Homo sapiens: one gene and its partners. The protein of the gene in region 1 interacts with the protein of each later gene in a pairwise test. Each region holds a gene or a part of one and is shown on either strand. Other genes may lie near its edges.

Region 1 (4,569 bases):
CCAACCCATAAGCCACTTGTTGCTGGTTTTGAAGATGAAGGGAGCCAAGGGCCAAGGGATGATGGCCTCTAGAAGCTTTAAATGATTCCTAGCCAACAGCCAAAAAGGCAACAGGGACCTCAATCCTACAGCACCATGGAATGAAATTCTGCCAACAACTCAATGCAACTGGAAACAGATTCTCCTCCACAGCCCAGCCCTATCAATGCTTTGGTTTTCAGCTTGTGTGACTTGAGGCAGAAAAACCAGCTAAGCCTGCTGGGTTTCTAACATATAGAACAATAAAATAATTTGTATTTTAAGTCGTTAAGTTTGTAGTAATTTGTTACAGCAACAGTAGAAAACCAATGCAATAACTCAAGTTAAAAACTATAATGTACAACTAAGATGACAAAAATGAAAAAAGATGGTGTGAAATCACCAATGAGTATAGGCAATCTTTTCCACTAACAACTTTCCTGTAACTATTAGTTGGTGTGCAGAATACCAGCATAATGATGGAGCAGAAACAAAAATAGCTTTCAAATGAATCAGAGACTTTTAATTTGATTTTGTGAAAAAAGCTTATAAGCAATCAGACAGGCTGCTTTTCTCCTTTGTGTTTGTTACCTATGAGTTTCATATGGTGCAAACATTAATTAGGAAGAATCTGTAACTATGAAATGCTATGTAATTCAGGAAGACATCTTTTCCATATGGTTAATGAAAGACAAATCCTTCCCATATCATTTAACACTCACAAAAAGTATATAACAAACAAAACTGAAATTTGAATCGGAGTTTATTTGAACAGAAAAGCACTGGAAGTCTGTTCATTTTTTTTTCTTGAAACCAATTATAAAAAGTGGTCCCAATTTCAACAATTAAAAAAAATTTTCAATAAATACGTAATGAAGTACTTCAATGGGTCAATGTATCAACCTATGGATTTTTTTTTCTTTTTCAAAGGTATGCTAAGAATGAATGAATGCAGGATGTTTTTGAAAAAAAGTAAATATTATATCCTATATTATGATTGTCATGACACAACCAAATGGCTGTTTTCAGTTTTATTTGTTGCATTCAAAATCCACTGTATATTTAAGCATACATGACAAAGAACACAACCATTCTTCCTAAAACAATAAAGATACTATCCTTAGAGTTCACAGTTCTACAACAACTTTACATTAAATGTTCAAAACATTGTACAACCACAGATATTTGTGAACAGTCTTGAGAGCTGTATTTTGGTACATTAAGGCAGCTTCAGCCAACATTTTAAGAGATTCTGAATATTTGTTACAACACAGGACAAGTTTGATATTTGAATACTTGAGGTCTCAAGAAATATTAAATGTCACCTAACAACACCACAATTTGTGAAACTGTGATCTTACCTAAAAATCAAGATACTCATCCTATCAGTATCAAAGATACTTATTTTTTTTAAAAAAAGGAATTTACATTGAATGTGGGGATATAAACCCTGTATTTAAACAAGGGCTTTCAAACAGTTGCTCACACACATCTGTGAGGTAGGTTATTATCCACATTTTGTAAATCAAAAAACTAAATGAGGTTACGTGACTTGCTGCTGCTTCAGCAGCCAAAGGAAGAAACTGATTCCAAGTTAGATTTTGTTCTTAGCTCTGAGTTGTTTCCTTGACAAACTTTTTAAAGGGTTAAAATATAAAAACTGCCATTCATCAAATTCATTTATAAAGCATGAGAAGGTAGCCAAATGTTATGTTTACCAAGGTGACTTATAAAGTCAATCAACATGAAAGAAATAGGAAAATACATTTAGTGAACAACTTCTGATAGTGATAGGGAGAGGTTTGACCAAGGGAACTCAATCAGGCAGATGCAAACAACATGATCATTTGTAGGAGGCAGATCTAAGGAGAACTGAGAGGGATTAGAAAAAAAGAAAATATAGTTTAAACAAGTTTTTACTATTACTCTTCTTATAATTTAAGGGAGAAGGCACAATTTAGTGTTTTTTTTTTTTTTTTTTTTTAGAACAGTGGATCTCTCTTCCACTTTAGGAAAATGTTATCTGTCTAGAAAAATGGCCATTTTTGGTAGCAAAACTTAAATGTGTAACTGTGAAAAATGCACGTTTAAATTAGTAGAAAAAAAAATAACAATGCAATTCTCCTTGGCTAGAATGTTTTTGTTCCTCCTTGAAATTTTAAATCAACACAACGTAGCAACCCTCCCTGCCCACCTCAGAAAAGGTCACACTGTATGCACTGTATGAACCTTGTCAAAATTCTACGTATTATTCAAAAAAGTTTTCATGCCAGGATATTCTCCAAATTCTTTTTTCATTTTTTTTTCTGGAGAGTGCTCTATTCTAGGATTTAATTACACTTCAAACGTAATTGAAATTTACCTACCCTGCTTGTCCAAACAATCAAGAGCCACTTCCATAAAATCTAAACTACTTTAGATATAAACCATTTTTACCAAAAGTCACATCATAGTCACAACTGCAAACTGGCATTGCTATGCAAGGCTGGCAGTAAACATTAACATTAGCTTGCAAAATTAATACAGGCCTACAGTCTGATAACTCTTCTAGACCCAGCCTGATTCTTATCAGGCTATGGATGAAGAAGTTTAATTAAAACTCAATCCAGTCTAGACTGTGTGACCTGTTCTTTGTGCTATTACTGTTCAGTGGCATCAAATGCATCATAATTATAGGTGGAAAGGCTAGTAATGATGCCAGCAACTTGTTTAAATGAAGTTTTTATAATTTTTAAAGCTCAAACATAAGTACATTTCAAAGTTTTATAAGGTTTGGGAGAAACTCTATCAAGCTAATAATTCAGTGTTTGTAAATTAGAAATATATTCTATGAAAATAGTTATATCATGTAATATACATACAAAATGAAAAATCAATCTGCATATGAAATTTGGATAAGACTAATTCAGATAATAGTCAAAAACTATAACAATTTAGACAGGGACTGGGGCTAGTTTTCTTTTTCCTTTTTTTGTTTTTTTTTGAGACAGTCTTGTGCTGTCACCCAGGCTGGCATGCAGTGGCATGATCTTGGCTTATTGCAATCTCTGCCTCCCAGGTTCAAGAGATTCCCGTGCCTCAGCCTCCCGAGTAGCTGGGATTACAAGCAGCCTGTCACCACACCGGATAATTTTGGTATTTTTAGTAGAGACGAGGTTTCACCATGTTGGCCAGACTGGTCTCGAACTCCTGAACTCGGGTGATCCACCCACTTTGGCCTCCCAAAGTGCTGGGATTATAGGCATGAGCCACTACACCCAGCCTAGTTTTCCTTTTTCAAAAATGATTGTGCTATAAGAATCACATAAAATTATAAGAAGAATCATGTTTTAAAGTTTCTTCAGCATTTTTAAGCACCCTCAATAACTCAGAAATACTTATAAAAACCAATATGCTAATCATAAATACTTCAGATAATTACATCTCGTTAGTACAATCAACTGCTTAAAATAAACTAAGAACTATTTATTTAAGACTACTTTATGTCACTCTAAGACTTGAAAGCAATACATCTGTGTTTATTTTTACTACTCAACCACTCTGATGTTTTATTAATTCAGACTGTTCTTCCCCAGAGGAAAGGTGGTTTCCTATAAAGAGCAATTGATCACTGCTGGATACTTGTATGGTGTTAAAGCTTTATGAAGAGCTTTCTGGTCCTGCTTCCTCATCTGGAAATGGCAAAAATGCTTTCTCTGGTTACCTCTCAAAGTTATCGTAATAGTAAGTAAACAATATGAAGGGTCTCTAGATCGAAAAATCACTATAAAAAATATATGGAACACTTTCATCACTCCAAATTTGTAATGCTTTGCTTCATGCCAAATGGATGTGATGTTTCACCGTGTTTGGTTTTCTGGATGATTTTTGCCATTTGCATTCCTCCAGCAGCTGTATTTAGAAAAATATTCAAGTATATACCTCTGACATGCCTCACCAAATCAAAACAGAAACATTCACACTCATATAAAAACTCTAAATATATAAAAAGTGAACACTAACACAAATCATATGGAAAAGCAGAAAAGAACTTTAAAGCTCAAAGGTACCTTAGAAGTGTTAAAATCTACCTTTCTCATTTTAGGAGTTATAAAAATGAGGCCAAACATAGGATGTGACTTACCAACAGATTGCACATATCCCTCGTCCAGAGTTTTTAATAGAGTCTTTGAGAACTACTATTAAAATAAATTACATTCCCTATTTAAAAAGCCACAGGGTGACACAGGAGAACCAAGTAAATAAATGCAAGATTGAAAAGGTTTGGGTCTTAAAAACAAATAAACAAAAACAGACAAAATTGTGAACATGTCTAGCATTTAGACACTCAGCTTTTACAACCATTAATAGGATGTAAATTAGTACCCGGTGAATAGACAAAGTGGTGTCTGTGGCAGGCATGTTCCAGGTTTTTACATTTTATAAATCCAAAGTGAGGTGCCTACATTAACTCAGTACACTGCACATTATTCAATGCTACAGATAAATCCAAACAGATCAAAAATCTACAATAGTTGCTTATGATTTTTTCTAAACTATGTCTCATTTAAC
Region 2 (7,047 bases), on another chromosome or scaffold:
ACCACCCTGCCCGGCTATGAAAATTCTGACATTCTTTTATGTCAGTGAACACCTAACTTAGTATCTAGTTGACTCAAGATGAGAGTTCTCAATGCTATAATTTGAATGTCTTTGAAAATTCCACTAGTATTATACAAGCTTTTTCTTTTTCTATACTCAGAGAGTTACTAATGCAATAAGCTTTGTCAAATGACGTCGTAGTGTAGTCCAAATTCATTGTATAAGGACTTATCACAGTACATGGATTTGTAATCATGTGTCCTCAGAGCATCCTCGGAACTTAGTAAGGTGTGTTTTCCAGTTTTACAGATAAATAAGCCTAAGCTGAGAGAATTAGGTAATTACTTAGGTCAGTAACTTAAATACATTATGAATCACGAGTTATTTTGATATCAAGACCTCTTTCTAGCAATGCTGCCATATTGTACTCATCATGTTCATTTCAGTATGGTTCTCATCTATATTGAACTGTAGATTCTGTGTTAGCATTTATTACCTCTGCTCCAGTATTGATTCTTTTATGTTAGGTTTGGCAGTAAGGGCCTTAGAAATTCCTCACAGTGAATTTTTAAGATCTGGAAGAGACTAGTTTGAAATATTCATTTTAATATGTACCACAGAGGTAATGGATTCTAATTATCTGGTTATTGAAGTTTGTCAAAAGAAAAATTGTACTTCCACTGAAGAAAAAAATAGCTAGTCTTTGCACTCTGAATAACTTTGTTTCATTAGGGTTTTTTGGTCAATTTTTCTTTAAGAGACAGGGTCTTACTCTGTTGCCCACACTCAAGGGATCCTCCTGCCTGAGCCCTCCACAATAGCTGGGACTACAGGTTTGCACCACCATGCCCAGCTAATTTTTTCAAAAACTTTTTGTGGAGATGGGGTCTTGCTGTGTTGCCCAAGCTGGTCTTGAACTCCTGGCCTCAAGCAATCTTCCTGTCTCAGCCTCCCAAAGTGTTGGGATTACAGGCATGTGCCACTGTGCCCAGCCTGTCAGTTTTAAATATGGAAAAATTATAACTTATAAAATTAGTGTATATTTAGATATTTCTTTCCGTACACATTTTGTCAGTGTGACTACTGGTAACAAATGTCAAAACTCTTGTGAGATAATTTCTAGTTCTTTGGTTTGTTTGCTGCTGATTTGGAAAGTGATGTCAGATCTTAATTTATATGTGGCTGTTGCTCATGTTTTGCTTACCTCTGCTGCAAAGGGCAGGGTCCATGTGACTGCCTGGCCACAATCGTTTTCTATGTGTTTAGCCCTTAAGAGTGCTGAGAATGTTTGTTGAGTAACAGCTTCCCTCCAGAGTGGTCAGTTCTCACATCACATGAGGTAGTTAATGAAGCCTCTTACTTTCCAGCTTCTGTAAGAAAAGTAGTCAGATATCATGGTCCAAGGAATGGCCTTATGCATACCTGGAGTCCTTATACCTATCCCATTTTAATTATATTGGCTTTAAAATCTTCAAGGTAAAAAGAGGCAATTTGAACCCCTTCTTTGTTGCCCTGAAAAATTCCAAGGAAAATTTCTTTGTCACAAGCTGAGCTAGGCATAATGAAAGCACTCTGGAAAAAGGAGGTAGAGAGTACTAAGAGATATCCAGCAATTATTGCTAAGTGGTAGGATTGGCATCGGGCACGTTATGTATATTTTTTATCTTTTCCTCTTAATAGCTAAATATGAGATATTCCCCCTATTTTAAAGATGAAGACTTTGAAATGCAGGGTAAGTGGTGATAGTAGGATATGAAGGCAAGATTGGGCTGGGCACAGTGGCTCATGCCTGTAATCCCAGCACTTTGGGAGACTGAGGTGGGTAGGTCACCGAGACCAGCCTGGCCAACAAGATGAAACCCTGTCTGTACTAAAAACAAAAATTAGCCAGGTGTGGTGGTGGGTGCCTGTAATCCCAGCTACTTGGGAGGCTGAGGCAGGAGAATCGCTTGAATCCAGGAGGTGGAGGTTGCAGTGAGCCAAGGTCACGCCCTTGCACTCCAGCCTGGGTGACAGAGTGAAACTCCGTATCAAAAAACAAAACAAAACAAAAATTAGCCAGGTGTGGTGGCACATGCCTATAATCCCAGCTACTTGGGAAGCTGAGACAGGAGAATCGCTTGAACCTGGGAGGTGAAGATAGTGGTAAGCCAAGCTCACGCCACTGCACTGCAGCCTGAGCGACTGAGCGAGACCTTGTCGCAAAAAAAAAAAAAAAAATTGGGAGGCCAAGGCGGGCAGATCACGAGGTCAGGAGATCGAGACCATTCTAGCTAACACGGTGAAACCCCGTCTCTACTAAAAATACAAAAAATTAGCCAGGTGCAGTGGCGGGCGCCTGTAGTCCCAGGTACTCGGGAGGCTGAGGCAGGAGAATGGCCTGAACCCGGGAGGCAGAGCTTGCAGTGAGCCAAGATCGCACCACTGCACTCCAGCCTGGGCGACAGAGCGAGACTCTGTCTCAAAAAAAAAAAAAAAGTCTTTCCTGGAATTCTCCAACACTTGAGCGCTTATCTTCAGTATAATTGCGTTATATTACTTAGTCAATTCAGTGCTTATTGATTTGAGATAACTGTTTGCTACTTGTTTGTAGGAGACGCACATTGATTGGGAAAGGGGGAGTGAGTGAGGTTTCTCTTTCAACTGAAGACCCTACCATAAGGTCAGGTGTATGTTAGATTTTCCTCTGCTGCCTTTTCAGTGCTGTGTTCATATGGTGTTCCTTTTCTTTTTTTCTTTTTCGTTTTGAGACAGAGTATCACTCTGTTGCCCAGGCTGGAGTGCAATGGCGTAATCTCAGCTCACCACAACCTCCGCCTCCGGGGTTCAAGCGATTCTCCTGCCTCAGCCTTCCTTGTAGCTGGGACCACAGGCGCGTGCCATCATGCCTGGCTAATTTTTGTATTTTTAGCGTAGATGGGGTTTCTCCACGTTGGTCTGGCTGGTCTCGAACTCTTGCCCTCGTGATCTGCCCACCTTGGCCTCCCAAACCAAAGTGCCTGGATTACAGGCGTGAGCCACCACGCCTGGCCTGGTGTTCCTTTTCTTTTCATCTTTACTTAACAGCTTTCCCCAAGGACACAGAAAAAAATAATAGAAAGTAATACTGTTTTCTTTTGGGAAAGAGGGTAGTATTGAACATGTATTTTTGAAGCAGTTAGCATGTGGAAGTAAAAGGTACTTGTCAGTGATGGCAGTCACTTAGTAACCTAGTTGTTGTAGTTAGGATTTTTGTTGGTTGTAGTTGATGAAAACCCACTTGAAATTAGCTTAAGCCAAAAGAGATAATTTACTGGACTCCAAAGAAAGGTGCAGGAAGGGCAGGGGTATAATGTAGCTTGGTTTATGACCGTATAGAGCCTGTCAGTCCGACTTAATCAGACTCTCCCTCTCTTTTTTTGCCTTTTCAGGCTTGTCTGCTTCACTCCTCCTTTCTGCAGACCTATATTTCCACCTGGCTAGCCTCTGAATGTCACATTAATTAGACTTTCTTCATATTGTCTGCTCCTAAGTTTGAAAATCTGGAGAAGGGATTCTTTAGGTATCCAGACGACAAGGTAATACAACAATGTGGGCCTGGTATGGTAGCTCACACCTGTAATCCTAGCACTTTGAGAGGCCGAGGCAGGTGGACTGCTTGAGCCCGGGAGTTCAAGACCAGCCTAGGCAACATAGTGAAAACCGGTCTCTACCAAAAGAAAAAAAAAAATAGCTGAGCATGGTGGCACATGTCTGTGGTTCCAGCTACTTGAGAGGCTGAGATAGGAGGATCACTTGAGCCCAGGAGGTTGTGGCTGCAGTGAGCCGTTATCATGCCACTGCATTCCAGCCTCTGGGTGACAGAATGAGACCCCATCTCAAAAAAAACAGCAAGGAAATCATAAGGAAGAGAAAATATAGTTCTATACTATAGTTATCAATACCATAAGTTTATGTCAGCTGTTTACAAAACGAATCATCTGTCAGAAATGATGGGCAACCACAGCTGTAGACCTCAATCTAACGTAACCCATCAAGCAATTAAAAAAGAATGTGGGAAGTCCCACAGAATCATATGGATTGCCTAGGAAGTACACAGAGGTGGGACTGCTTTATTGTGAATTTCTTTGAATTACCAGAGAAACATGTTTATGGACTTACTACCCTTTTCTTTTTGAGACAGTATCTTCCTCTGTCCCACAGACTAGAGTGCAGTGGCGTAATCACGGCTCACCGTAGCCTCAACCTCCTGAGCTTCTGATCCTCCTACCAGTCCCTCCTGTAGCTGGGACTACAGGTGTGCACCACTACACCCAGCTAATTTTTCTATTTTTTGTAGAGATGGGGTCTCACTATGTTGCCTATGCTGGTCTCAAGCAGCCCTCCCACCTCGGCCTCACAGAGCGCTGGGATTATAGGCATGAACCTCCGTGCCCAGCCTATTACTTTTTTTTTTTTTGAGATGGAGTCTCACTCTGTCACCCAGGCTGGAGTGCAGTGGCGCAATCTCGGCTCACCACAACCTCTGCCTCCCAGGTTCAAGCGATTCTCCTGCCTCAGCCTCCCGAGTAGCTGGGACTACAGGTGGGCGCCACCATGTCTGGCTAATTTTTGTATTTTTTGTAGACATGAAGTTTCACTATGTTGGCCAGGCTGGTCTCAAACTCCTGACCTCGTGATCTGCCTGCCTCGGCCTCCCAAAGTGCTGGGATTATAGACGTGAGCCTCCGCTCCTGGCCTCAGCCTAGTGCTTTTAATGGCTGTGATTCTACCAAGAACAGTATTTAAAGAGAGACTAGTTTTAATATGTGTAAACTGTAAAAGTTGTTTTAAAAATGAGAAGCACCACCAAGATAGGTTTTCTGTAAAATCTTCAGTTTATAAAAAATGCAATTTAGCTGGGCATGGTGGCTCATGCCTATAATTCCAGCACTTTGGGTGAGTGAGGGAGGAAGATTGCTTGAGCCCAGGAGTTTGAGACCAGCCTGGGCAAGATATCAAGACCCCACCTCTACAAAAAATAAAAGTTAGCTGGATGTGGTGCCGTGTGACTGTATTTCCAGCTACTCAGGAGGCTGAGGTGGCAGGATTGCTGGAGCCCAGGATATTGAGGCTGCAGTGAGCTATGATTGCACCACTCCACTCCAGCCTGGGCAACAGAGCAAAACCCTGTCTCAAAAGTAATTAAGATGAAAATTTTTTTAAAATGCAATTCAGTCTAGACCCAACTATATTGTCAACTTCTTGATGGCAGGTACTTCCATCACTTCTATTGTCTTTTGTAGTACTTAACGAGGGCTATATCGAGTATGTACCAGTACCAGGCACCATTCTAAGCACTGTGATGTTTCAACTAGTTTAATTTTCACAAACTCTTTTGTTTTTGGTGCCATCAAATTTACATAAGCAGACAATAACTTTCATTTTAGAGATGAGAAAACTGAGGCAGATAATTGGGAAAGCCGGGCTTATGTGTCTCATATGTGGTCAAACTGAGATTTGAACGTTGGCAGTCGAGCTCTATAACGAGTTTGCTGTGTGTCTGATAAGAACATAGTAGGAAATGTACTTAAAATACGAAATTTGATTGCTCTGGTGCCAAATAACCTAGAGGAGATGGTGTGTTTTTGTTGAGCTCAGTAATAATCTGAAACTATAATGAGATTTAACTCCTAAATTGGCAGACTGGTTAGAGATTGGACTCTACATGGGGATGTTTTAAGGGAGCTGGGAGAGCCATGAGGACCTGCTCTCACTGTTTGAGAACTTTTTATTTTTTTGGTGTTCAATTAAGAATTTATTCCGTCATCACAGAGTTTGAAGTTTAATTATGGAGCTACATAAATATCCATACTAGAAGAAAGTGATTGAAATCATCAGCGACACACACAGATAGAAAAAAGGTGTTAGAATGAAGTAACCTGAAATAGCATCTCATCCCTGCTTCTTAGAGTGTATCCATAAGCCAGCAACTTTGGCTTTACCTGGGTGGAATCTCAAGCCGTACTCCAAACCTCCTGAATCAGAACCTTTGTTTTTTTTGTTTTTTTTGTTTTTTTTTGAGATGGAGTTTCACTCTTGTTGCCCAGGCTGGAGTGCAATGGCACGATCTCAGCTCACTGCAACCTCTGCCGCCCTGGTCCAAGCAATTCTCCTGCCTCGTCTTCTCAAAGTGCTGGGCTTACAGGTGTGAGCCACCATGCCCGGCCTTTTAGAATCTGTATTTTAACCAGGTGATTTGTATTTTCATTAAAACCTAGAGCCTTATTGCTTATTGATTTAATACCACTTGCTTTAATAGTATCAAAACATGTTCATTAGAGAAATTAGGTTAATCATAACTGCTTGTGCATACTAGCTTTCTTCATCATGTACATTCTTTTCCCAAAATACCTGTATAATTTGTGGGTACTAGAAAATGCTCATGTGTTCAGAATGTATTTTTTGCTCAGTCCAAGTCTCCAGGTTAAAATTCATCCATTATTTTAAGCCCCCAGTCATTTCTTTTCTTTCTTTCTTTCTTTTTTTTTTTTTTTTTTTTGAGGCTGTCTTGCTCTCTTGCCCAGGCTAGAGTGCAGTAGCACGATCTCAGCTCACTGCAACCTCCGCCTTCCAGGTTCAAGCAATTCTTGTACCTCAGCCACCTGAGTAGCTGGGATTACAGGCATGTGCCACCATGCCTGGCTAATTTTTGTACTTTTAGTTGAGATGGTGTTTCACCATATTGGCCAGGCTGGTCTTAAACTCCTGGCCTTGAGTGATCTGCCTGCCTCAGCCTCCCAAAGTGCTGGGATTACAGGCATGAGCCACTGCGCCCAGCCTACCCAGTCATTTCTTGTGACCTATTGTTGTTCCCAGGCATATGTTAAGACTTAGAGGAAAGTTTGATTACTATTTAAAAAATAAAAAGTATCTGAAATCCTGTAATTGAAAGGCACGAATCTTGTCTTTAAGATTGTTGCTTCTTTCCTACAAAAATAGAAGTGGGGAAAAGGCAAACAGCAAGGCATTGCTGGAAGTGCTGTTTTCTACTTTTGTCTTCACCTGTGTTTTATACTGAGTATGATT
Region 3 (3,263 bases), on another chromosome or scaffold:
GGAAGTAAGAACAGGCACGGCACGCTCTGCTGAAAGTAGACTGCGGCCAGGCTTTTGAAGGCCTTGAAGGATGTGTTAGGGATTTGGAAGCCACTGGAAAGATGAGCAGGGGTGGAGAGTGATTTAGGAATGTTGTTGTCATGCTGCCCAAAGCAAAGTAGATGAAGATTCGAGGTAGAAGCACACTTCTGCACAGGTGGCCCTAAGATGGTGATGGTGGAGTGGAAGGAGCAGATGAGCCAAGAGGACAGGAAATGAGGTCGGTGTAAAGGGCAGGGACAGGCCAGGGGTGCACAGGGATGAGTCTGGATTTGGCTGCCTTGAGGGCTGTCTACAGTAAGCATACTTAAGCGGATGTGCTAGAACTAATGTCATTATTTATTTGCCACAACCTAAAGAGACAGGCAAGTATTAGTCGCCCGTCACAGAGAAGGTCCAGGGTGTCCAGGGCCCACTGTGGAAAGCTCTGCCTGGCTTGCCCCTGCTCCGCCGGCCGTTACCCGCTACCCACTCATACTGTCGTCCAAAAACTGGGCAGTGAAAAGTCACAGGTCAGATACAAATTGGACAGATTTGGTGTGAACATTTACAAGCTCATCCCGTACGCTATGTTTCAGTGGTCACCTAAATATTCTCATTTCAGGACTTTTTAAAACACATTTTCCCAAATCTAACTTGGGACAAAATCTAACTTGGGACATTTAAATAGGTTATCAATAATTATCTGTTTATGGCCTCTTTCGGCACACAAATAAGCATCTCCCTGTACAAAATTCTAGTGTATGCTGAGCTGATTGATTGCCTTCTGCATACACCTTTTCTACAACTTCTCAAACGTGTGTGACATGCTGGTAAGATGGCAGGAAAAGGAGTGACTGAATAATACAATATAGCTGAGATGTGTTTCAAGAAAACCTCTGGGCCAGGGTAGGGGTTTGTGAGCGGGAGCCAAGGACTTGCCCCATGTTTCTAATCAAGGTGAGACCACTGACACATGTGGTCAGCAAATATGTTCTATACACACATCCGCACACTGTCATCTAACCCATCCGTTCTCCCATCCACAGCATCTCCAGGACAAAGCCATCGCAACTAGGGAGGGGTTGACACCTGCTCTCCTAACATGTTTTCTTTCTGTTTCAGGCTTGAAAAACCCTTGCCCAGTTTTGATCCCTTCAAGACTTTGTCACAGCCTCTATCACACATCTGTTTTTCTCGAAGAAAAAAATATAATTAATAAAAATGTTTTACTCTTTTACACTGTATAATTGTAAGAAATAGCGTATTATTTGTGAATGCATGGTCTGAAATTTCTGTACAGTTTGGAGATATTTTCAAACGAAACGTAAGAGAAGTCAACAATAAAACCAAGAAAAGTGAGTATTTTTATACCAAACATTTTAAGTATGCTGGGATGGACGATCTTACACTGGTTTGGATCACAGTTTTTGTTCTTGACTTTTGAATGCTTGTAATTAAAAATATCTATTTTTTTCCTCTGAAGTAAGTTGCATGTTTGAGGCATGTTTCCAAATATTATCAAAATATCCTGAATTGTATTGTGAATATATAGAAATCTGTGCCTGGCCGGAGTCCAGGGTAAATTAGTAGCATGGTGTTAGATGTTAGAAACAGAACTGTTATTTGCAGTGTTAGGTCTAGGATCCCAGTTCTAGTAGGACAGCCCTGCAAGACAATCAACCAGAAGCCTCCAGGAGCTTCTACCTATGGCTTATTCACAACTGGGCAAGAAAACATCATTGGTAAGAACTGCTGAGTGTGCCCTTAGAAAGCCCTAGTAGCTCCAGCTGTGACTATATCAACTGTGTGCCAAGTGTGACTTTGTACAGTTTTATGTTTCCACTCTCCTGTATGTGTAGCCACTCGATGCCTAACCTACCTTCCACAAGCCAGCCCCGCATCCCTGCTCCCGCAGTGTAAGTGCAGAGCCTGCCTCACTGGTAAGGGAAAACCTTGGCTTGGGAGGCCAGCCCTGGCCCTTGAAGGGGTTGGCTGTGCCCAGCCCACCTGGCTGCAGTGGGCAGCTCATGTCTGTATCTCCAAAGTGATGTTTGTTTGCAAAACACCGGCTGAACTGAGCTGGTGTTGCCAACTCTTGGCAGCACTGGGCCAAACCGACCACATACCATGAGCTCCCAAATGGCGTGTGCTCACTGTGAGACGTCCTGCCACACCCCACAGGAGACGGAGGCAGTGGGCATTTGGAACCAATTCTATTCAGACTTCGTCAAAGCCAAAGTCAGTCTGGTGTTGTCAGTTGACACATCTCCAGAGTTCATGACAGCTCAACCTCTCCCCTTGTACAGAAGCCATTTTTGTAAAACCACACTGACCTAAATTCAGCTGCCAAACACAGTCTTTCCTATTGATCCGCTCGGCTTATGTTGAAAATTTCAATGTCATGATTACCTGGTTGGTTTGGGTTTTTGTTTTGTTATTTTCCATTAGAAATATAAAGATGTCAAGAAGCTTTTAAAGGTCAACACAAAAAACCAAGGCCAGGAGTGAGGGGCTCTTTCTTACCGTAAATAAGGGGAAAAGGCAGTTAGCTCAAGGACTTGTGACGGATCCACTTTGGTGTTCAAGGACCTGCTTATGCCCTCAGTGCCAATCGGCTCTTGGTGAGATGACTGTACTCCTAAGGAAAATAGCCACTTCTGCAGTCTATTATGCTTTTATAACTGTTTAAAGGTACTTTTCTATTGTCATTTTTAAAAAATAAAGTGCTTATTCCAGCTGTCACACCATTGCTTGACAAATTCTTTTTTAGCAAGACCAACTACATGTATCCCACACTGCAGACAAGACGCCAGCAGATTTCATTCCCATTGTCAGGCTTCGGCAGAGCTAAGCAAGCATTGGCCATTGAGCTTAGGCACAAAGAGATTAAAGGAGGAAGCAGATACCGGGGAAAGCCAGAGAGTAAGTCTGCAAACGCACAACCACAGTGGCTGGTGACCCACAATGACACCAGAGGCAGAGGGACCTCAAGGGAGGCCCCTCATCTACCTCAGCCTACAAAGCTTGACTCAGGATTATCTGAATTATATTAAAATGTCACTTGGGTTTTCTGCTGACTTAAATATATCTTACGCCAGGCATGGTGGCTCACACCTGTAATCCCAACACTGGGAAACTGAGGCAGGAGGCTTGCTTGATCCCAGGAGTTTGAGACCAGCCTGGACAACACAGCAAGACCCTCAATTTTAACATTAGCCAGGAGTACTAGCACCTGTGGTCCT

The links. Proteins that work in one complex are often made in the same cells at the same time.
Region 2: the proteins of PRKAA2 (region 1) and NRBF2 interact in binary tests that used the Homo sapiens proteins (3 or more experiments, as listed by UniProt).
Region 3: the proteins of PRKAA2 (region 1) and RBPMS interact in binary tests that used the Homo sapiens proteins (3 or more experiments, as listed by UniProt).

What each region holds. Positions count from the first base shown.
Region 1 is NC_000001.11:56,711,282-56,715,850, reverse strand, and holds the end of PRKAA2 (5'-AMP-activated protein kinase catalytic subunit alpha-2), read right to left. Parts: 3' UTR 516-4,569; downstream 1-515. UniProt on the Homo sapiens protein: Catalytic subunit of AMP-activated protein kinase (AMPK), an energy sensor protein kinase that plays a key role in regulating cellular energy metabolism.
Region 2 is NC_000010.11:63,136,281-63,143,327, forward strand, and holds part of NRBF2 (nuclear receptor-binding factor 2), read left to right. Parts: intron 1-7,047. UniProt on the Homo sapiens protein: May modulate transcriptional activation by target nuclear receptors. Can act as transcriptional activator (in vitro). Involved in starvation-induced autophagy probably by its association with PI3K complex I (PI3KC3-C1).
Region 3 is NC_000008.11:30,569,494-30,572,756, forward strand, and holds the end of RBPMS (RNA-binding protein with multiple splicing), read left to right. Parts: intron 1-1,143; coding exon of another isoform or gene 1,144-1,237; 3' UTR 1,238-2,763; downstream 2,764-3,263.